2 separate regions of the Homo sapiens genome follow, and region 2 is linked to region 1. The links come from fine-mapping of genetic effects on gene expression. A gene starts in region 1. The other region holds a variant in brackets. All regions are shown on one strand. Distances are from middle to middle. Region 1 holds the start of TAL1 (TAL bHLH transcription factor 1, erythroid differentiation factor). Region 2 has its middle 59 kb from the start of FOXD2.

Evidence for each region. PIP is the estimated chance that this variant, and not a neighbour inherited with it, causes the effect.
Region 2: its variant is the best candidate, but not a certain one, in a credible set for the expression of TAL1 in whole blood (INTERVAL, PIP 0.86).

Annotation. Positions count from the first base shown.
Region 1 is chr1:47,225,848-47,237,124 of GRCh38, forward strand. It overlaps TAL1 (TAL bHLH transcription factor 1, erythroid differentiation factor), which reads right to left and starts at 6,378. Exons shown (of 5, transcript NM_001290403.2): 1 at 6,320-6,378; 2 at 3,349-3,504; 3 at 1-42. The coding sequence starts at 41. RefSeq lists enhancers at 2,484-3,445, 3,446-4,407, 4,600-5,573, 5,574-6,547.
Region 2 is chr1:47,491,008-47,502,284 of GRCh38, forward strand. It overlaps the pseudogene RPL21P24. Among named protein-coding and RNA genes, the nearest start is that of FOXD2, 59 kb to the left of the region's middle. The variant A/G (reference allele first, on the strand shown) is at 5,439.

The DNA of each region.
Region 1 (11,277 bases):
GGGTCACTGCGAGCCGCCTCGCTCGGCGGCCGCTCGGTCATCCTGTGGGCAGACAGACAGACAAGCGGATGCCCGCTCTGACGACCGCCCCTGACCCACCGACGTGGGCTGGGGTAAAGGGGAGAAGGGCAGAGAGAGGAACTCACGCACCGAGACGTGAGAAGAGGCAGACAAAGTTAGCGCCACGTGGGGCTAGGGCGGGAGGCCGGTTGGGGCTAGGGTGGGAGGGAAAGAGGGTCTCTGGATTGGGAGAAGGGAGGGGTGCCTGGGAGACACAGAGACTGAGGGCCAAAAGGACAGAGATGGAGGAAGACGACAGAGACACCGGAAGAAAAGGAATACAGCCAGCGACAGAAACACAGAAGGGGAAATCAGGAGGAAGGAAATGTACAAGGAGGCAAGAAAGAGATTACTCTGTCCCCTTTCTCAGGCCTAAAGGGAAGAGGAGGGAACAAATTCCGGATCGTGCTCTTTGGTTTTAGCGGGGAATCTGTCAGGCAGGGGTTCGTTGCTTTAGGAACCTCCCTTGGCCTCTCAGCAATATTCCCAGCCCACCTACAGGCACACACCCAGAAACCCGGTGCGGATGGAAGTAGGGAATTAGAAAGTGGAGGCTACGGGGACTGGGATCCACTCCGCCAGAGCTGGCAGAGAATAATCCCGAGGAACCAGCTCCCTCCACACACACACACACACACATTCGCCCCCGCTGGGGAGTGAGGGAGTGTCTGTCTACACTGAGCAAATCCACTGTGAGTCCTCTGCCCGCCCAGCGGATCTTTACTCCCACTCAGACAGAGATGAGAGGTCGCCAAGGGAAGAAGATGGTGCTGGCCCAACCTCCCTGCACAGTCCACCTCGTTCTGCTCAGCTGGACTCTGAAGTGAGGTCGAGTCTCAAAGAGAGGCCTGGCTGAGGTAGAATGGAGCTGGGCATTTGAAGGGTTCCCTGAGGCCAGTGGGGTCTGGACTCCCATCCAAGAGCAGGACAGGATGTCATGAGGCCCTTGAACTCTTCCAGCCCCCCTCACCGCCATCTCCTGCCTTGGTGTTCTTTGGGAAATGGGAGGAATACCTCCTTTATGCATTTGAAAGTGCTGTGCAAACGTTCAAGTAAACATTATTAACAAGGAGAATGGGCCAGTGAGAAAACTGCCTGGCCGAATGTCAAGTCACTCACAGCCTATCTGTGAGAGAGCCAGACCAGAGCAATAATCTCACTTTGCTCAACCCTCCTGTATTCCCAGAGCAGTGAAACCACCTTGTGACCCCACAAGCATACTCCGAGATGACCACAGCCACTCTACTTCCCACAGGTGTGCTGGGGCTCTTCCATCACCTGGCTTCATCCAGATAGAGCTGGGCACCAGCAAGAACCAAAACAGAAAAATCAGGAGACTCAAGGGCCAGAGTTTGTGAGTTGTGAGTTGTACATATATGATCAACACCACATAAGTTGTTTAAAATAAGCTTTCTGCTCTCTGAATTATATAATTGGGTATTTAAAAGAAGAAAACAAATACAAAAAAACAATTTACCCCCATGCAGAGTCCATCTAAATCATACATAGCAGCCATTGAGCTCCCATACTGCCACTGCAATGCTCTGGACAGGAGTCATCCTAGGAACCATCCCTCCCACCCCAGAAGGGAGAATGGATCATCTGCAGCCTCCTCTGGAGCTTGGCTCAATTGCCACTAGACACCCAGGATGACAGAGAGTCAAGATTCAGACTGCTGTACACCTTCTTTGGGAATGCCAGCCCCCCAGGTCTGGCACAGAAACCACAAAATTCCCTAAGTCCTGGTGTATACAAGCTGTAAAGGCAGTAGGTCCCTGACACTTCATTGGAAGTGAGTTTATGATTTTGGTGGAGACAATAGGTCTCTATCCATAGAATGCAACCACCAAGACACCAAGGCCACTGGAAATGCACCAGAAGTATATCAGCCAGGTCCTCTTGCTCCCAGCAGCAGCGAAATGTGCCAGAAATATACCAACCCCTGGGAAACATACAAGCTTCAAGGTATTGGTTCCCTACCTCACTGCTCTCCGTCCTGACACACCGGTGTGAGCCCAGTGATCCATGCTTAAGCCCCAGCTTCTAACCGAGTGACAGTGTGCACTGCAGTTGCAGACTGAGCTCAAGCTCTGTTATGACACATTTTTACCCTCCAATTAATTCTTAGGCTCCTGCTCTAGCGGTGGATTCCTGAGAGGCAATGGGAGTACATATTCCAGATGAATTGACCCTGGCCACAAATGTCCTCTCCAGACACCTATAAATATCCCATCGCCAAGGTTCCTTGTAAGAAATATATGATTGGATCCCAGGATCTGTGGAGGACCTCTCCCGGCTCCTCCCCACATTTTAGGAAAATCCTGCCGGTTTAGGATTACCAGCCAGAGGTCCATGCCCCAAAGAAGCCACTCACAAACACTGATGGTTGTTGGCGACTAAGCTGCATCACTTGATTTGGATTACAGAAAGGAACGCCCGAGAGATTTTGTTTGTTTTTATTTGGGGAGAATGAAGGAGGAGGGAGATTTTAGACTGAATCGTTCTAGAGTATTTGACGACTACAGCTCCTCTCTCTTTGTACTACGGAGACCCTGCTTATAGCCCCCAACAGGAAATCCTCATCTGCAGTTGCCAGACAGCCAGAATATTTCCACCTGTGCCAGAACAAGACAGAAGACCCCAGGAGATTCTTCCTGGGGACAGGTCTCAAGCAGACCCAATCCCCCATACAGAGAATTTCTTAGATGAAAACAGCCTCAGGCCCTTAGACCCAGCCTCTGGTCTCTCTTCTGGGCCCACACCAGCACAACACCCTGGAGAAGCCCCAAGCCTGCACAAGTACCAAACCCACCAGGGAACAGCACCACCATCCTCGCCTCTACCGGAGAAGAGGGGTGTTCCTGCCTCCCCACCCTAGGCCTCAGGCCTGGGATCAGGGCCCACTCGAGCTGGGACTGCACTAGCCAGGAAGGCTGCCGCCTTCCTCCTGCGGGAGCTCCAGGCACAGTCTGTACCACCCGGATACAGCCGCCCCAAAGTTACCGGCCTTGGGAAACGTCCACAGAACCGGGACCAATGGGAAAGGCCTGGACGACTAAGTCCAACTAGCTGGTTTTACCCTGGGTGGAAAAGGGAAAAAGCCGCTGAATGCCACAGAGGCAGCTACAGCAGTCAGATCCCGATTCCAAGCTCTGGCTGGTCCTCCCCTCCCCCCACCCCCAATCTGAGAATGGGCTCTCCTCTGTCCTGAGCCTTCCTCACCCCAGGCCGGAACACAAGGCCTTCCTAGACACCGTTTCCACCGGCACCATTCCCCTGAAAACTCACCTGGGGCATATTTAGAGAGACCGGCCCCTCTGAATAGGATCTCCACTCCGCCGGAAAGGGGCGGAAGCCGAGGAAGAGGATGCACACCCGGGTCTTTGCTTTCCCCCTTTTTCGCTGAGAGGCCTGCAGTTACGCTGCGGTGTGGTCCTGGGCGATCTGCCGCGCCCAAAGCGAGTTTCCAGGAAAGATAGGGGTGGAGAGAAAGAGGCAGGGCAAGAGGGAGGGAGAGAGAGAAATGGGGGTCAATGGCTGGGAATTACCTCCTGTCCCCGACCAACCAGTCCAGGGAATCGCAAACAGCTTTCCGCCCCCAACCTGCAGGTGTTTGGAGCCTTTCCTCTACCCCCTCCTCCCCCCACCCGCCTTAAAAAACCCTATACATGACCAATCAGGAATAGCTATTTAGTCCAACAGCAACAACAACCCCTCCCGACAGGCTGTCTGGAACATTTTCGAACCCTCCAACTGGGATCGGTCTGGTTCAGTGTTTGTTTTCTAAGCAGGGAGGTGTCTACGCGGTTGCCTCCTCAGCCAGGTCTCCGGCTGCCGCTACACCGCGAAGGGATAGTCCCGGGCCTGGATGGGCGGAGGTCCGTGTTGGGAAAGGCGAATAGTCTTCAGACTCTGGTCGGTGGGACAGAACCTTGAAGTCCCCCCCACCTCATTCTCTCTCTGACCCCCATCCACCCACCTCCAGCCCAAAGCGAAACCAGAACCCAATTCCAGGGGCTGTACTTTCCTACAGAAATGGAGTTGGGAAGGGGGCTTGGAGAGAGATATCTGATCTGTTCAGGTCCTTTCTCGTCTCCCTACTGATTAAGAGAAAGAAGAAAGAGAGAGGAAGAGAGAGACAGAAAAAGAAAAGGAAATAAAGACCAACAAAGGGGGAAAGAAAGAAACAAAGGGGAAAAGTCCCCCACCTTCCCCTCCACCACCCCTACGAAATGATTTTCGATTTTTCGGGGTTTAGACAGAGTAAGGGAGAATTCTAATGATTTGTTACAGCAATAAACAAGGTAAAAGGAAAGGAGGTAAAAACAAACCCGACACTACTTTCAAGGATGTAGCAGGATTGAGCTTGCTTTTATTTTTTCCTAGTGGATTTTGTTTAATTTGTTTTGCCTAAATCGTCAGGCTTATGATCACACATCGAAGTCTTGGATTAACTGCGAAGGCCTCCTTCTATTTGCCGCGGCTTTGGTGGACATATAGGAATAATTCTTCCCTGGATTGCAATACAATGCGGAAGATTTTCTTTCTCCTCTTCTAATCCAAAAGAGGGGAGGGGAGGAAAGAAGAGGGGAATCCATCCATTCCCGGCGTGTTCGCGGGGGGTTAATGTTGCGTGTTCGCTGGGGGTTAATGTTTGCCTTATGACCAAGTCTCTGTGTCCGTGCCTCTCTCCATTTTCTCTTCCTACCTCAAACCCAGCAACTTAGAAAACGGCTGTAGCGGAAAAAAACCCGCTGCTTTGTTCTCCCGCCAAAGGAGCCAAAAGGGACAAACTGCTGCGCTCTGGGATGATTATTTTAATTAAAATAGATGTTAATGATGACGATTGTGATGGTGATGGCATTAGCAATTACAATAATTGACAAAACAAAATTCTTTCAACCCGAGCTAGGGCCCCACTAACCCGGTCCCTCCCAGAGCCCGGATTCGGCCTCGGTCTCGGATGCGACGGGTATCAGACCCAAGCGGCAACGTCGCTCACCCGAAGAGGGGGCGGGAAAATCTTCCCAGGAGGTGATCCCGAATGTCCCCACCCGAGGCTCGAGGCCTGGTGAATGTGCCCATTGTCCTTTCGGGGCCTCTCCCTTGGAGCCCGGCGGCCGCACCCACGAAACTGACCAGAAATGGATGAAGCCGGAGTGCAGCGGGAACCGAAGCCCGCAGCTACCGGCTCGAAGGCGCCGGCCTCGGCGAGCGCTGCTCAGCTTCAAGCCTGGAGGAGCCTCCCACTCACCAACGAACCCCTCAAACACCTAGGCACAGGCGGGCCTCCGGGCAGAGCAGCCGCCGACCGGGCGCTGTCCGCCCACCCAAGCCAACAACTGGCTCCCGAATACATCATAATTTGGAATAAAATGTGAAATCCCGCTCCCCGCCCCCATGCCGCCGCCCCCACCAGCGCCTCGATCTCTCGCTCGCCCTCCCCCCACTCCCGCCCCCAGCGATTTGCAAACGCACCTCTAAAGGACACAGGCACACAGGCATACAACTCAGTGCGGACAGGACCACACAGGGTCCAGCCCCACAGAAGGGCAGCAAACAAACACCACCTAGCACTGCCCCAGAAGCCGACTTGGTCAGCCCCGCACACTGCCCAACAGGACACAACGAAATCAGTCAAACGCAGCGGCTCACGGACACACAATCCAGCACAGTCGGGATCACACACGCCCGACATAACGACGACACCACCCAAACACAGTCGCAGGGGCCACACACCCCCACACACAGAATCAGATCCCTGCTGAGAACACCAACGGAGCACAATCGTACGCAACGAAGAAAACGCAGAAGGGCCTCGAAGGGTCCACATCTACACACCCCAACCGCGCAGGCACACCACACTCGGACACAGAGCCTGTCGCCAAGAAGACCACACTTAGAAGCAGCCAACGCCGCCCACAGTTCTCATGAACGCACTCTCACAATCCCACCGCATGCACACAACCACGAAGAAGAAATGAAAACCAACCACAGCCTCGCGCATTTCTGTATATTGCGTAAGGAAAAGGGGGAAGGAAGGAAGAGAGTCTCCGAGGCGGGAGGGGCGGCGGCAGCCGGGGCGGGGGCGTCCGTGGAAAATGCCCCCCCACCGCCCCCCCCGGCCATCGAAAGGAACCGAGGGAAAGGGAGCGAAGACCTCTTTTGCGGACGTGGGGAAAAAGAGGAGGAAATTGATGAAGAATTCGGTGGGAGGCCGCGGGTTGCTTTTCCCCTAGAAAAAGGCCAGAATGCTCACGTTTTTCCGCTACGGGGGTACGCGTGTGGCCATTTTGAGGCCCGGTCCTGAGCGGCGGCGGCCCGGCCCCTCCCGCGGCCCCCGCTCCCCCGCCCGCCCCGCGCCCGCCCGGCCCCTCCACCGACGCGCTGTAATCCCACTCACGTTCCAGGCCTCGTTAGCATGGGCCGAGGCGCGCCGGGGCCGTGTGCGCCGCAGAGATAAGGCACTGCCGCGGGTCCGCCCGCCCCCGATAAGCGCCTCGGCCATTATGGGCCAAATGATTCATTTTAATTTGGCAATTTCACCGGAGGGAGTGGGGACTGGTTGAGCGGCGCTAGGACCGGCTCCGGAACGCGCTGCGGGGAGCGTTGGACGCGCTGTCTAGGACCCAGCAGATCCAGCCCCCATCTCTAATCCCAAGGCCTCTCAGGAACCCCAGCTTCCCACAACCTCAGTCCCTTAACCTTTCAGACACCTTTCTTCAGCGACTCTCACCCCAGCACTCTGTCCCTACCTCTGAAGACCACCATGATACCAAAATCGTCACCTCCCAGGGCTTCTTTCTTATTCTTCCTCCAGTGTCCCAGACACCCAGATTTCAATGGGCAGTCTCCCTATCCCAGAAAGCTCCCCAGCCCTTCCCTACCTCTTCACCCCCTTCTAAAATAGAGCCGGTAACTCAAATCCATGGGCTCTACGGCGGCCTGGCAGAACCCCTGTCAATAGGGACATAAAATGCCTATTCTGCTAGGTTTCAGGCTGAGCCCAGAGCCCAGGAACACTGCTCCCCACATGGTATTTAAAAAAAAAAAAAAAGTTTAATCTAGCGACTGTAACACTATTCTAGGCATTCTGCAAATACTAATCTACTCTTCACAAACAGTCCTGAGAAGCTGGATCCTTAATTTACAGAAGAGAAAACTGAGGCACAGAAAGTCAAAGTAACTTTTCGAATGATACATAGCTAGTGCTTGGTGGAGTCTGCCTTGGAAGGAAATTTGACACGGAGTCTTCTCTGCGGCTCAGCTGATGAAGAGGGGCAGCCAAAACCTAGCCAGGGAAAGGGACCTGGGCTCAACTCATTGCAGAGACCAGGGTCTTTACTGTGGGGTAGAAATCTGAGTTCAGTGCCAGCTGGATGATGCGCTCAGCCCACGGAGGGTCTCTGGGTTCATTCTTTCATGGTGGAGTGGAAAGAACACATGTTCGAATTTTAGTCACTGATCTCTGAACCTCAGTTTTCTCATTTGTAAAATGGGGAGATAATGTCGACGTCACAAAGTTATGAGAACTAACTTATATGACCTTTAAAAGGTGGTGGTGAGGATAATAATGTATGGAACGTCACTCAGTCCACAGCCCAGGAAAACATCATATGCACTTGCATGGGAGTTCTGGTTATCATCATAGAGAAAGAAATTAAGACACAGAGAGATGTGACTTAGCCAAAACTTACAGTAACCCAAAGGAAAAGCCAGGACCCAAACTTTGGTGTCCAATTCCCAGTCCACAACTCTACTTTCCATGCCAGGCTGATTTGTCCTTCTAGTGTCTCTGCTTTTGAGCTTTTTTTGGAGCCTGAGAACTGGGGGAAAACCCCTACTCTGGTAACAAACTGAGTCCCAGTCAAAGACTGAGCAGAGAGCATGGCCCCAGTCTGGGATCTGGCTTCTCCTTGGTCATCAGGTTGACCCTCTGAGAAGATACAGTTAATTCAGTGCCGCCTGTCCCCTCTGTTCCTCCTGTGCTCTCTGAAGGAAGTCAGGCTGTCATGGGGATACAGATAACTCTCACAGAATCCCACATCCTAAGAAAAAGTCTAGTTCCCCCCTACCATAAGGCCTTTGCTTGGCTCCATCACTTATTAGAAAATGAGAGTCATATAATTCTGAGTCTGAAACACAACTCTGCCATTCCTGGGCTGTGGGACCCTTAGAGAAGTGATTTCATGTCTCTGAGCCACTGTAAAAACAGGCTAGCCATTCCCATATGGGAGAGCCCAGGTGGGGACTGCTTCTCTGAGAAAATGAGGCCTGGACTGAGATCTAAGAGTGAAATTTGGGGGTGCGAAGAAGGGGGGTGGGGAGAAGCATCAGTATCCAGAACCTTCCAGGTGGGCTGAGGAAACAGCTGGACCAAGGGCTAGAACAGAAGGGTGGTAGGTTCGTGAAAAGAATAGAAAAGTGTCCAGTATGGCTGGAGCATGCTTGTGGACAAGTTAAAAGATTTTTTGACATTTTTTTGTTTGTTTGGTTTGAAGGTGGGGGTGGTACCTTGTATAGAATAAGATTTGCATTTCTAGAAAGTTCTTTGGATGAAGTGTGGAGGGGGAAGGACTCTGGGAGGCCAGTTGTGGAGCCAATGCAGTGGTTAGGGGAAGCGGATTAGAGCTTGGACCACTGTGCTGGCAGAAGAGATGACAAGAGGCAAGTGAAGATGACATGTATTTGGGGTATAAAACTGGGTTTATAATAATTGGATTTGGGCCAGGCATGGTGGCTCATGCCTCTAATCCCAGCACTTTGGGAGGCCCAGGCAGGCGGGTCACGAGGTCAAGAGATCGAGACCATCCTGGCCAACATGATGAAACCCTGTCTCCACTAAAAATACAAAAATTAGCTGGGTGTGGCAGCGCACGCCTGTAGTCTCAGCTACTCAGGAGGCTGAGGCAGGAGAATCACCTGAACCCAGGAGGCAGAGGTTGCAGTGAGCCGAGATCGCGACACTGCACTCCAGCCTGGCGACAGAGCGAGACTCTGTCTCAAACAAACAAACAAAAAAAGAATTGGGTTTGGGGGGATGAGGGAGAGGAAGGAATCCAGGAAAACCCCTGGGTTTCTGGCTGTCCTGCAGAGCTAGTGGTGGTTATTCCTGGAGATGGGGAACCTGGAGGCTGAGGGGACATGGGGAGGGCTTATATATTTGGTTTTGAACTCCTTAAGTTTAGATGCCTTTGAGACACCTGCAGACTGTTGGATTATTTTACAGGGCATTAAATGTCCCCAGCCAGCACCTCCAAGGAAAGTGTCCTTTCCTGTGGTGAAGGAATATGGACAGGTGGAAAGGCGTTTCTCAGCCCTGTGGCAGAGGGTGTGCCCAGGCCTCTGTCTGTGGAGCGAGGAGGTGACGTTCACCAACCCTCCAATTCCACACATTTGTTCTCTGCCAAGCTCCAGATTCTGACAGTCAGGCAGCCACTCCCGACCTCATCCACCAAAGCCCTGCCAGGGGCTGGGGTCTCATGACGTCTACATCTGCCCCCTCCCCTGTTTCCGATGGTCAGTGGAAAAACGGAAGCTGTGCGCTAAGCGGGGCGCTGCCTGAAATAGCATCTGGTGCCTGTCGGTCAGCGAGTTGTCCGAGCGTCCACGAGAGAGTGACAGGCCGGGGCCAGCCAGGAAATGCCACCCCTCCTCCACCCGCCCCAAACGGAGGCCCCAGTCGGGCAGGAAACCCGGAGCGCCTGGGGTGGGGGTGGCGAGGAGGGAGGGGAGGTTGAGACCCAGACTGGTAAGTCTGGAGTCTGGAACTGGGGCAGCAAGAGCAGGGGACAAGAACAGGCTAGCTAGGCTCTGGCCCTGAGGCCGTTGTTCCCCACCACCAAAGGTTGGGTTCTCCCTAAACCCCAAAGCCAAGCCTCTTACCATTTTTCAAGTGTTTCTGCCTGCCCTCTCTGAGTACTGGACTATCTCTGAGCTTCTCCCCCGAGCTTCTTCTCCGGAAAGATGCCATGCATGCACTCTGATGAGCAGCCGAGTTTATTTTTAACAAATCTACACTGCAGTTACTGTGTGACAAGTACTGTCCTAGGCACTTTGTAAGTATTAATTCAGTTAATCCTTGCAAGAACCTAATGAAGTAGGGACTACTCCATTTTGTAGGTAGCACAGAGAGGTTGAGCAACTTGCAGAGAACACCCAGCAGGTAAGTGGTGGAGGCAAAATTCACACCTAGGGCAGTCTGGCTTCAGGCCACAGTGCTTCGAAAGCAGCAAAGCAAGCACAATGGTCAGGCAGACCTGAGCTCCTATCCCTGCTCCCCTAGTTGCCAGCTGTATGATACCAGGCAAATTACTTAATCTCTGAGGTTCACTTTCCTTATTTGCAGAAGAGAGGTGCTCATTTTCCATACATAATACTGTTTATATAAGGATTATTTTTAATGAGGAAAATTTCAATTTGAGGAAATGTCATTATTTCCCTCTTCCACTTTCAAAGGACTATTCTCTCCATTTTTGCCTCTGTCTCTTGCCCTGGAAGAACCCCTACCCCATCAGTAAGCAGGCCTCAAGAATTCCGAGCTTGGGAGTCACGTCTGTGCTTCCAAACCCCAACGCTGCTGTCAGAATTCTCAGGGATGGAAGGAACTTCACTCTCAGTGGCTCTCAAAGTGGATGGTCAGCATCACCGAGGAACCTGTTAGAAAAGCAAATTCTCAGGCCTCACCCCAGGCCTACTACTACTACTCTGAGGGTGAGGCCCAGCAATTTGTTTTCACAAGCCTTCCTGATGATTTCTGACACACACACAAAATTTGAGAACCACTTCTCTAGTTTACAACCCCCATCTGTAGCAAAGGCCAAAGTAAAATTGTGTTAAGAAAACACCGTGCTTTTTTTTTTTTTTGAGACAGAGTTTCACTCTGTCTCCCAGGCTGGAATACAATGGTGTGATCTCGGCTCACTGCAACCTCTGCCTCCTGGGTTCAAGCAATTCTCCTGCCTCAGCCTCCTGAGTAGCTGGGACTACAGGTGCATGCCGCCACACCCAGCTAATTTTTTTTTTTTTTTTTTTTTGAGACAGAGTCTCCCTCTGTCACCCAGGCTGGAGTGCAATGGCACAATTTTGGCTCACCACAACCTCTGCCTCATGAGTTCAAGCAATTCTTGTGCCTCAGCCTCCCAAGAAGCTGGGACTACAGGCATGCATCACCACGCCCAGCTAATTACTTATATTTTTAGTAGAGACAGGGTTTTA
Region 2 (11,277 bases), 270 kb after region 1:
TAGGATGGCAGACTATGAACACATTATGGAGGAAAATAAAGCTGGGAAGGGGTAGGAAGCACTGAGGGGTTGTGCTTGTAATTTTAGGGACTGCCTCCTTGGGAAGATGACTTTTGGATAAAGACTAGAAGCAGATGATGGAGCAAGCTTTACAGATATCTGCAGGAAGAATGTTCCAGGCAGAAAAAAAGAGCAAGTTCAAAAACCTAAGGTGGGAAATACAGAAGCCACCATATTTCCCAAGGGCTACGGCACTCCTTTTAATGCGATTTTGGTCATCAAAGCCACACAGGGACAAGATTCTTTTCTCATCTGTTCTCTGAATCTCCCACAGGACACCCAGCATGTGGCTTTGCTAAGCCAGGGCACTGGGAGTCCCTGCAGCTGCTGGAGTGGGTGGTGACAGCCAGAGAGGCCTGTGAGAGCCCACAGTGCTGGGATGCCCACTCTCCCATGGCCTCTCTGGGCCAGTGCCCAGCCAGCTGTCTGCAGCCCTGGGACATGTCTCTCGAGTCGCATAGTATTGAAAGGTTGATCTCCCCATTAGAAGGGATTTGTCAGCACGAGCTGGGGCTTAGCAGCCTAAGCCGTGGGTCTGAAGGCTCAGACAGGTTCAGGGCCCAGAGGAGCTGACTCAGGCCTGACTCCCCCGGGAATCAGGGAAAGGCCACCAGCTAAGACCGCCAGGGGTCAGAGTCAGGATGAATTGCTCGATGTCCCCAGGGGCACTGCCAAAGCCACTGTCATTCCCACTATTCTTCCTGGGGTCTAGGAGCAAGCTCCAGTGCCCTAGCCTGGCATGCAAAGCCGGGCAAAGCCCCATGGCTCATCTGGGAGCTCACCCTGCATGCTCTCTCTGGGACATTTCCTCTTTTCCTGTGGTGTTGGATACCATCTGTACACCAGCAGTCCCCAAACTTCCTCCAGACCGCCCTCCTGAGTCCACCTGACAGTTTACCTGATGTCTCCACTGGGATGACCCATAATCTTCTCCAACTGAATGCATCCAAAATGGGACTCCCATCCTCTCCACAAAGCCACCTGAGTCAGCCAAACATAGCTAACTTTCACCATTTCACTCTTCCTTGTGTGTCAACTCACTTCAGTACTTTCAACAGCCTTGTGGGTAAGGACCTGCTCCGCCCATTTACAGATGAGGAAACTGAGGAAGGGGAAATTACATCACGTAACACTTGCACTGTCCTGGCTCACTGAGTCAGTAAACTTGGAATCCGCCTGAAACAACTGCACCTCCATCCTTCCTCCCTGCCATGACTCCACCCCGGCTGCTGTCACTGTTCCTTCAAATGACTCTGACAGTTGCCTAGTAGGTCTCCACTTTTGTTCCCTCTAGCCCATTCTCTCCCAGAGCAAATCAAGTGACTGTTAAAAAAAAGTACAGAGCTGATTTTGTCACTTCTCTTGGTTCTTAGGCTAAAACCCAAACTCCTTAACATGCTCTGCCAGTCCCCGTGCAGCATGGCTCCTGGGTCTGCCTTCCTGGCTTGTCTTCTGTGTCCTCTGTGTCCCTGGTCCTGTGTCACTCAGCACACGCCAACCCCACTGTCTTTCTTTCAGTTCCTCGACTGTGACAAGCTCTTCCCAACCTCAGGGCCCTGTTATGCGCTGCGTCTTCTCCTTGGGATACTCCTCCATTGCCTAGTTTATCATCATTCTTCAGGTTTCAGTTTAAATGCCACTTCCTCAGGGGAGCCTTCTTTGACTTCTTTTCAGGTGTCACCCTCTCTCATGGCTCTCCTACTGCTCCCGAACTTAATGTTGACAAAAAATAGCCAAACTGCAATTAATGAGTTCTTTGCCCCTTACTTGTTAGACCCATGGCTTCCCTGCTGGGTCATAAGGCCCATGAGGGCAGAGACTAAGTCTGTGTGGCCCAGAGCTGTATCCCTAGCATAGCATCTGACACATAGTGGGTGCCCCGTAAGGGCTGGTGAATGAGCAAATCACCTTCTCAGCCTTTCTTTTCATCTGGTCCCTATTGTTCTCCTAAACTGCTTTCCTTATTTCCCTTGACACAGCTGTGCCCATTCCAGTCTCCTTGCCTTTGCTCGTGCTGTTCCTACTGCCTGATGTCCTGCCACCTCTCTCCACTCACCCACAACCTACCAGTCCTTCAAGATAACTCTATGGCCTCTACTCCTCCAGGAGGCCTTCCCTCTGCACACTAACAGGTTAAGTGTCTCTCATTCTTCTCGTGGTCCTGTGCTATTTCTCCTCCAATATGGCCCCTGCAAGAATCCTTGACCTAAGCTCCATGCAGGCAGGGACCAAGCCTTCTTTTCAGTGCCCTCCCCAAAAGGGGTGAGCTCCGAGCTTGGGCACAAGAAGCAGCAAGTAAAGATGGTAATCTGCTGTTTCCACTTCTCTTGGTCTTTTAGGTTCCACTGGAAGGTGAACCTCTCCCTGCCTCACCTCCCCAACTAAGACCACCTGAGTGCACTTCTCATGCACTAGATTCCATGAACAGGCCTGACTGTGAGAAAGCAGAGGCAGTGGAAAAGCAAGGGTTTGGGAGTCACATAAATCTATACTAAACTCCTATTTCTATGAGGTTCAACCATAATGAAGTTGCCATTTCCATTAGGTTGAACTGTATGAAGTAGGCCAAAGATGATTGAATATCAAGTTTCATGTGGCTCAATTTAATATGTAATCTCAGGCAGTTGGTCTGATGTCTTTTAGACTTAGTTTCTTCATCTGTGAAATGGGAGGAGTAGAGCCTCATTTACGGAGTTGCAGAGAGGAGAAAATAAAGCTGTGTATCATTATGGGTCAAAGTTTGAGTTCTGGAGGCAAGGCTCAGTTTGAACCGTGGATCCCCCATCTTATCGGGGTTCCTAATTGCAAACAACAGAGTCCATTATGGCTAGTTTAAGCAGAACAAGGATTTATTACAGGATGTTGGGCAGCTTACAGAAATCCCTGGAGGGTCCTGGGAAAAAGGCCTGACCAAACCATGAGGACATTTTTAGTGAAAACACCACTGCCTGGTCACTCAGTCCCTATAGCATTTAGGGCTGGATACCAGAAGTTCCACCACTGCTGTTCCAAAGAACTGGATGCCTTTGCAACTGCCCTGGTCATAAGATCATTTGCCCCACCTGGCTGCCTCCTTCTTCTGAATCTAGGTTTCACCCAGGTGTGTCTGATTCATGGCACCTGGGTCATATGTCTGATCCTGAGCCACAAAGAGGTCTGGGGATGAGAATTTTCTGGCTTCTACCTGGAGAATGTTGGACTCAGAATGGAGAAAGGAAGGGCATTGAATGGCCACAACTATGTGCTATTTCTTTTTACTAGCTGTGTGATCATGGGTAAGTAACTTATCCTTTCTGAGCCTGAGTTTTCTAATAGGTAGTATCTATGTCACAGGATTTTGAGGATTAAATGCACGGATTTGTGAAACGCCTTTAGAAGAGAGCCTGGCATATAGCAAACCCTCAATAGATGCTAACTCTATTTTTATATTATTATTTAATATGGATTTGAGACCTCTTGGCACAAAGCCTAGCACGGAGAAGATGCTCTTTAAGTGTTTGTTGAATGAAAACCCTTGGCTGAGATATTAGTGTTCAGAATTCCTCTAGCTGGCCGAGAGCATCACAGACAGCTAGAACCAGTGGTGTGCTGCACCAGTGCGAGCCCATTGGTAACTTTTCAGAAATTTCACGAGCTAGTTAATATCATATTGGTAGCTTGAAATCTGCCTCTCTGGGGGAATTTACACTAGGGAAATTGGCAAACACTATAAATTGGGGCTCTCCTCTCCCTACAAATGGCAACTTTATCTGGTTAAACCTTTACCTGCACATCACAGGCTGATACAGGGTATGAAGTATATAAAGTGCCTAGCACCATGCCATCTCTTTTGGGCCCTTCAAATATGGTCCTTCTCTCTAGTTAGCAAATTCTTAGGATCAACTTTATTTTTCAGGTGTCAGGGAAAATAGATGAACCCCTGGATTCATGGACTTTTCATGGTTTCCTTGGTGGATACCTCTTTTGTATTGATGAATTTCCACCAGACAGGGAGTTCTTTTCAGAATAGGCACCAACACTGGGCACAAGGTCTAGCTAGCACTCAATAGTCCAGGAGGCATGGGTGGAATGGCTCCGTGGATGAGATTTCTGCAGCTGGAACCCTTTCCCTTCCCACACTGGTTGGCAACACTCTCTCCTTTCCTGGTGCCTCCTAGAGGGGCATCACCACTCCTGTTTTCCTTTTGCCATGTGGATCATATAAGAAGGGAGTGTGGTGGAGGCTGGGGAGTGAGAGGGGACGCTTGAATGTTGGGGGTTGGGGGGCTGCCTCCTGCATTAGAAACATTCCTTTGATTGCTCTGTGCAGCTCAGCAGGCTGCCTGGCTTAAGACGAAAAGAAGGGAGAGGCAAACACCCTTCATTTTAATTAAAGCCAACTTTACATTGTTATTCCATTTGCCTGTGTTGTTGCACGAGCTTACAATAAAGTTATATGGCACCCCCAGGGCAGCTTGAGCTGCGTGATAGAATGTGTCTAAGTTCAGCACTCCCCGACTATACTCAGCTTCTTTGCAGGGAGAACCACAGCCAGTCTCATGTCCTTTCTGGGGCTCTAAGCGATCACTCAGGCTCAGACCTGTGAGCAACACTTTTATTTATATTTCACGTTTCAAAAACGTTTATTTAGTACTTTCTATGTGCCCAGCAGTGAGCTAGGTGCTGAGTCTACCCCTGACACATTGCTGTGCTTCCAGGGTACACATGCTCCAGTCTCCAGGATCTGTCCCTGACCAATCTCCTGAGATGTGGAGCTCCATGTGATCACCCCCAACTCTCTCCTCAAATGCTTATTTTGGTCTTTCTTCTTTTGCTCTGTGGTGGCATCAGCGATTCAGCTAAGCAATCCATTATATTTAGCAATTCTCTAAGTTCTTTCACATCTGACATCTCTGATTCTCACCACACTCCCATCCAGATCCTGCCTGCTCTTCAAGCCTCAGTGCAAATACTGCCTCCTCACTGTAGCCTTTTCCGGCCACACCTTTCTCTAGTCCTCTTTGCTGCCTTTTTGTGGATTTCATCACAAATTTTAAAACTGATTTTATTTTATGTTTTAGAAACAGGGTGTCACTCTGTTGCCCCAGGCTGGAGTCCAGTGGTGCACTTATAGTTCACTGCAGTCTCGAACTCCTGGGCTCAAGCAGCCCTCCTGCCTCAGCCTCCTAAAGTGCTGAGATTATAGGTGTGAGCCACTGCGCCTGGCACCCCCTCCTTTTTTTTTTAAATTAAGGTATATTTTACATACCGTGAAATGTAGGGATCTTAAGTGTGGTTTGATGAACTTTGACAAATGTACACACCTATGTAACCATGACCTCAATCAAGCCAGGACATTTTCATCACCCAGTAAGTGCCCTCATTACCTTTCCCAATCA[A/G]TTCTACCCTCCAGATGCAAACACTGTTCTGACTTCTAACACTAGAGATTAGTTTTTTTTTTTTTTTTAAGATGGAGTCTCACTCTGTCAGCCAGGCTGGAGTGCAGTGGTGCGATCTCAGCTCACTGCAACCCCCACCTCTGGGGTTCAAGCGATTCTCCTGCCTCAGCCTCCCCAGTAGCTGGGATTACAGGCACCCACCATCACCCCCGGCTAATTTCTGTATTTTTAGTAGGGACGTGGTTTCACTATGTTGGCCAGGCTGGTCTCAAACTCCTGACCTCAGGTGATCTGCCCACCTTGGCCTCCCAAAGTGCTGAGATTACATGGATGAGCCACCACGCCCGGCTGAGATTAGTTTTTGCTTGTCAAACTCTTGTGTCTGGCTTCTTTTGCTTAATGTTTTTGAGCTTCATCCATGTTATTGGTAGATTAGTGGGTAGTTCTTTGTGACAGCTGAATTGTATCGCATTTAATGGATATACCACATTTTGTTTATTCATTTATTTGGGTTATGCACAGTTTTGGACTATTATGAATAAGGCTGCTATAAACATTTCTTATACAAGAGAAATGGACATATGTCTTTATTTCTTGGGTAAATACTCAGCAGTGGAATTGCTGGGTTGAGTAGATGTATTTTTAACTTTATATAAAATTACCAAAGAGGTTGTATCATTTTACACTCCCACCAGCAATATATGAGCATTTTTTTCCTTCCTTCCTTCCCTCCCTCCCTCCTTTCCTCCTTCCTTCCTTCCTTCCTTCTTCCCTTCCTTTTTTTTTTTTTTTTTTTTTGACAGTTTCACTCTGCTGTCCAGGCTGTAGTGCAGTGGCACAATCACAGCTCACTGAAGTCTCAAACTCCTGACTTTAGGTGATCCTCTCACCTCAGCCTCCCAAGTAGTTGGAATTACAGGAGTGCATCACCATGCTTGGCTGGTTTAAATTTTGTTTGTTTGTTTGTTTTTGGAGAGATGGGGTCCCACCATGTTACCCAGGTTAGTCTTCAACTCCTGGGCACAAGCGATCCTCCTGCCTTAGCCTCCCAGAGTGTTGAGATTATAGGCATGAGCCACTGTTCCTGGCCTATATGAGCATTATGAGCATTTTGATTGCTTCACATCCTTGCCAACATTTGCTGTTGTCAGCCTTTTATCATTTCAGCTATTCTAGTGGGTGTGTAGTTACATCTCTTTGTCATTTTAACTTGAATTTACAGATGATTAATGACGTTGAGTACTTTTTAATGCACTCACTGGCTATTTGTATATCTTTTGTGAAGTGATTATTCAAGTGTTTGCCCAGTTTTTATTGGATTGTCATTTTATTATGAATTCCTTACATATTCTAAATATAATATGTAATATAAGGTGGCCATATTGATTTTCTTTTATCTTTTTTTTCTTTTTTTACAGTCCAGAGGTCTCTTATTTTTAACACCTGTTATGCCATACATTCATAGGGAAGAGGTTCCAGCAGCTCCGGTTCCTTTTCATTGGTTCTCACAAAGTGTGCTTCCCTGGGTGGAGCAGGCTGGTGCTTCTGCTAAACCCAGGTACCTTTCTCTTTGGTTCCTTCTTTTCCTGATCATTTTCCTTCACACATTTCAGGAAGCTATTTTGGCTCTTAGAGTGCTCAATATGCACATTAATTCTCTTGGCAAGAATCTTGCCCAATAAGTTAACTAACTAATGCTGAGTGACACTGTAGACTCTTCCAGTTTGCCATGGTTAACATTTGTGAGGTATTGCTTTTTGAACAGTGCCCATTTCCTTGATGTCTACAATATTGCCTTTCTTACAGATTCACGTGTATTCAAAGGAACAACTCCATGTTTCCTAAAAGGCCTAGAGAATATGTATCAGGTGCCTCTCCTCTTTCCCTTTATGTTGTTTTGGTGAATTACTGGAAGATGGAGGTTAAGGCCGAGAGGCTTAATCATATTTTTTGATGAATAAAAGTTTAAAATTTGATCAGGTCTGATTTAATAATTTCTTATCTTATGGCTAGTGATTTTCTTGTGTCCTAAGAAATTTTTGCCTAGTCCAAAATCACAAATATATTCCCCCATGTTTTCTTCTAGAAGTTTTATAGTTTTCACTTTTAAGTTTAGGTCTAGAATCAATTTTGAATAATTAATTTTTGGTATGGGGTTGAGGTAGTAGTTGAGGTTCAGTTTCCCCCATATAGTTATCTAGTTGTTCTAGTACTATTTTTTGAAGGGACTTTCTTTTCCCTATTAAATTGACTTGGTCAAAAATCAGTTGATATGTGTGGATCTATTTTGGACTCTGTTCTGTTGACCTGTTTGTCTACGCTTATGCCGGTTCCAACTTTTTGATTATTGTAGCTTTATGGTAACTCTTGAAATCAAGCAGTCTTAAGTTCCTGATCTTAGGGAAAAAAGAGCTTAATATTTCGTTATTGTCATGTTAGTTGTATGTTTTTCACATTAAAAAATCAGATTGAGAAAGTCCTCTTCTATTTTTAGATTGCTGAGAATTTGGATTGTAGAGGGGTATTGAACTTCATCAAATTATTTTTCAGCCCATATTGAGATGATCATTTGATTTTTCTCCTTCATTGTATTAATTTGGAAAATTGTACAAGCCACCTGTATTCTTGAGATAAGCCCCACTTGGTCATTCTATCTGTCTGTCTATCTATCTATCTATCTATCTATCTATCTATCTATCTATCTATCTATGTATTGATCTATTATATATCATATATAAATATATGTAACCAAATTTGATTTGACAGTACTTTTAAAAAGATTTTTGTGTTTATGTTTTTGAGGGGTATTGGTGTATAATTTTCTTTCTTATAATAATTAGGCCTGGTTTTGGTTATTAGAATTACACTAATCTCATATAATAAATTGGAAAGTGCCCCCTCCGCCTATATTTTCTGAAAGAGTTTATGTAAGTTTTGTATTATTTATTCATTAAATGTTTGAAAGAATTCACTATTGCAAACACCTGGAGTTTTATTTGTGGGAATTAAAAAAATTATGAATGCAATTTCTTTAAAGACATAGGGCTAATTCAGATTTTCTATTTCTTCTTGTGTCAGTATTGGCAATTTGTGTCTTTCAAAAAATGTGTTCATTGCACCTAAGTTGTTGAATTAACTAGCATAAAATTGTACGTAATATTCTATCACTTTAATGTCTGTAGTGATGTCTTTTCTTTTATTTCTGATGTTGGCAATTTGTGTCTTCTCTTTTTTTTTCCTTGATCAGTCTAGCTAGAGGCATATCAATTTTATTAATCTCATCAGAGAATCAGTTTTGGTTTAATTGGTTTTCTTTATTATTTATTTTCTATTTCAGTAAGTTTTACTCATCGTCAACATTTGTTTCCCCTTCTTTACTCCTCTTTTTTTATATTCTTAAAATGGCAATTTAGATCATGGATTTTAAATTATTCTTATCTTTTAATATAAACATTTAAAGTTTAAAAATTTCCTATACAAATAACTTTAGCTACATTCCACAAATTTTTGTTGTTTTTTTTTCATTATAATTCAATGCTCATGTCCTTACTCCATTCATGTCTGTGGTCAACCATCAGTTTCTTAGAGTCTTTCCCTTATCAGTTCATATAGAATAGCCCCTTTACCCTTACCAGCCTTACTTACTTTACTCTGTCTTATTTTTTATTCTGCCTTATTTTTTATAGCACCTAATACTTATTTATTATAATAAATACCTAATATTTATTATATTTGTATAACAACTTTACTCTGCTTTTTTATAACACCTTATATCACTATAATGTATTTATATATCACATTATACATATATAATATATATGATATGAGATTATGGCATGTAATAATTTATTTGTTCTTCTTTTTATTATCTGTCTTCTCCACTAAGCTCCTTGAAGGCAGGGACTATTTATTTTGTTTGGTGATGTATCTCAGTACTTTAGAAGAGCCCCATAAATATTTGTCGAATGAAGAAATAGAAAAATTATTTGACACCTTGTGCGAATAATCCCTTCTCAGAAACCTTACCTGGCAGTTTCCTTTAATTCTCAGAGAAGTTCACCTCACTTGTTTATACTCTTTTTGTACTTGCTTATACTTTATCATTGACTACAACTGGATCATTATTGTCTGTTTCTGTCTCCCCCAATGACCACCTGCCCAAGGACAAGGACTATGTCTTTATTCACCAGTGCTCAATACAGAGCCTGGCACAGAAGAGACTAGCAAATGTGTGACAAATGAATAAATGAAGTGTCATCAATCACTCCTGCCTTGCAAATCATCTGTGAACTAGACTTGGCTGTTAGACCAGAAGGCCTTCCCGTAAATCTGGAAGACATGAACTAGCAAAAGCTTTTAAGTTTATAAGATAGTGTTGTTTGTCTGTGATTTGGGCAATGAAACAAGTCTGCACCATGCTTTTCAGTTTATAAAGCTCTTTCCTATACATTATCACATTGGACCTTCACAACATACATGGGAAGAAGGCATTATTATCCTCATTTTTTGGATGAGGAAGCACAAGCTTAGAAAGGTGAAACCATGTAGCCAGGAACTGGAGAATTTGAGACTGGATCCAAGGTTTCTGAAATCTCCAGTCTCTTCCCAGCCAATGGAAGGAAGCATGTGCTTGACCTGGGGGCAAGATGAGTTCCAAGGCCTCATGGCCAGGTGTTATAAGGTTTGGCATCCAGTAAGCTGATGGGCCCATCAGGGGTGAAGGTGCTTGCGTAGCTGAAGTACACACTGAACTTGGGTTTCGTTGCTTTGATCCATAGACACAGCCTTATGTAGGGAAAAGAGCTCTTGGATTTTATTATTTATTTATTTATGTATTTATTTATTTATTTATTTATTTATTTTTGAGACAAGGCCTGGCTCTGTCACCCTGGCTGGAGTGCAGTGGTGCGATCTCAGCTGCTGCAACCTCCACCTCCTGGGCTCAGGCCATCCTCCCATGCCAGCCTCCCGAGTAGCTGGGACTACAGGCATGCACCACTTATTGGATTTTAAAACTGACGTCTCTCTATTATTAGTTAAGAACCTTGGACAAATGACTTCTCTCTGAGCCTTGGTTTTCACATCTCTAGAATGGAGCTTAAATACCCACCACCTAGAGTTGCTGTGAGAGTGACAGGAGAGATTCACGTAAGTGGATTTTGTAGGGACTCTTATAAAGTAGCTCCTCTGCCTTAGATAATTTTCACTGGTCCCTAAAATGCCCTTGTATTCATAGTATTCTCCCTGGCGGTTTATTTCTCATTGATATTGGACACCAGAACAAGGGAAGGGTGGCACAGCTCGATGGCGAATCTGTAAACTGTCATTGTTCCATCATATCTGAGCTCCCAGCAGTTAAGCAATGGCTCTGGCCCCATGCTGACTGCCTGGGGATGAGGTCAGTGGGTAACAAACCACAGCACTTACTGACCACTGATCATAATGACAGCTATCATTTACCGACTGCTATTTATTATTTATTCTGCTCAGAGAAAGGATCTGAGCCCAAATTCCCTGGCTAGGTCCTAAAGGTCCTTCTTCCAGATCATCTCAGTTGTCTTTCCTCTAATCTTTGGGAAGCTAGATCCTGCTCCCTGTACTTCATCTCTGGCTGTGGTCCTATTTCAGCTCAAACCCTCCTCTGGGTCCCTTCCTCTAATATCAGTAGCAGCATAGATGGAATATGGCATGATTTGATTCCAACTAACCTTACCATCTGCCTTTCCTGCCACTTCGAGTCTACAGCCTACACATTGGTCTGTTACTGCCTTTCCTGGAACTTGGCCAACACCATCCTTCCTCTAGGTTTCTGCCTATGCTGTTCCTTTTGCCTGGAACA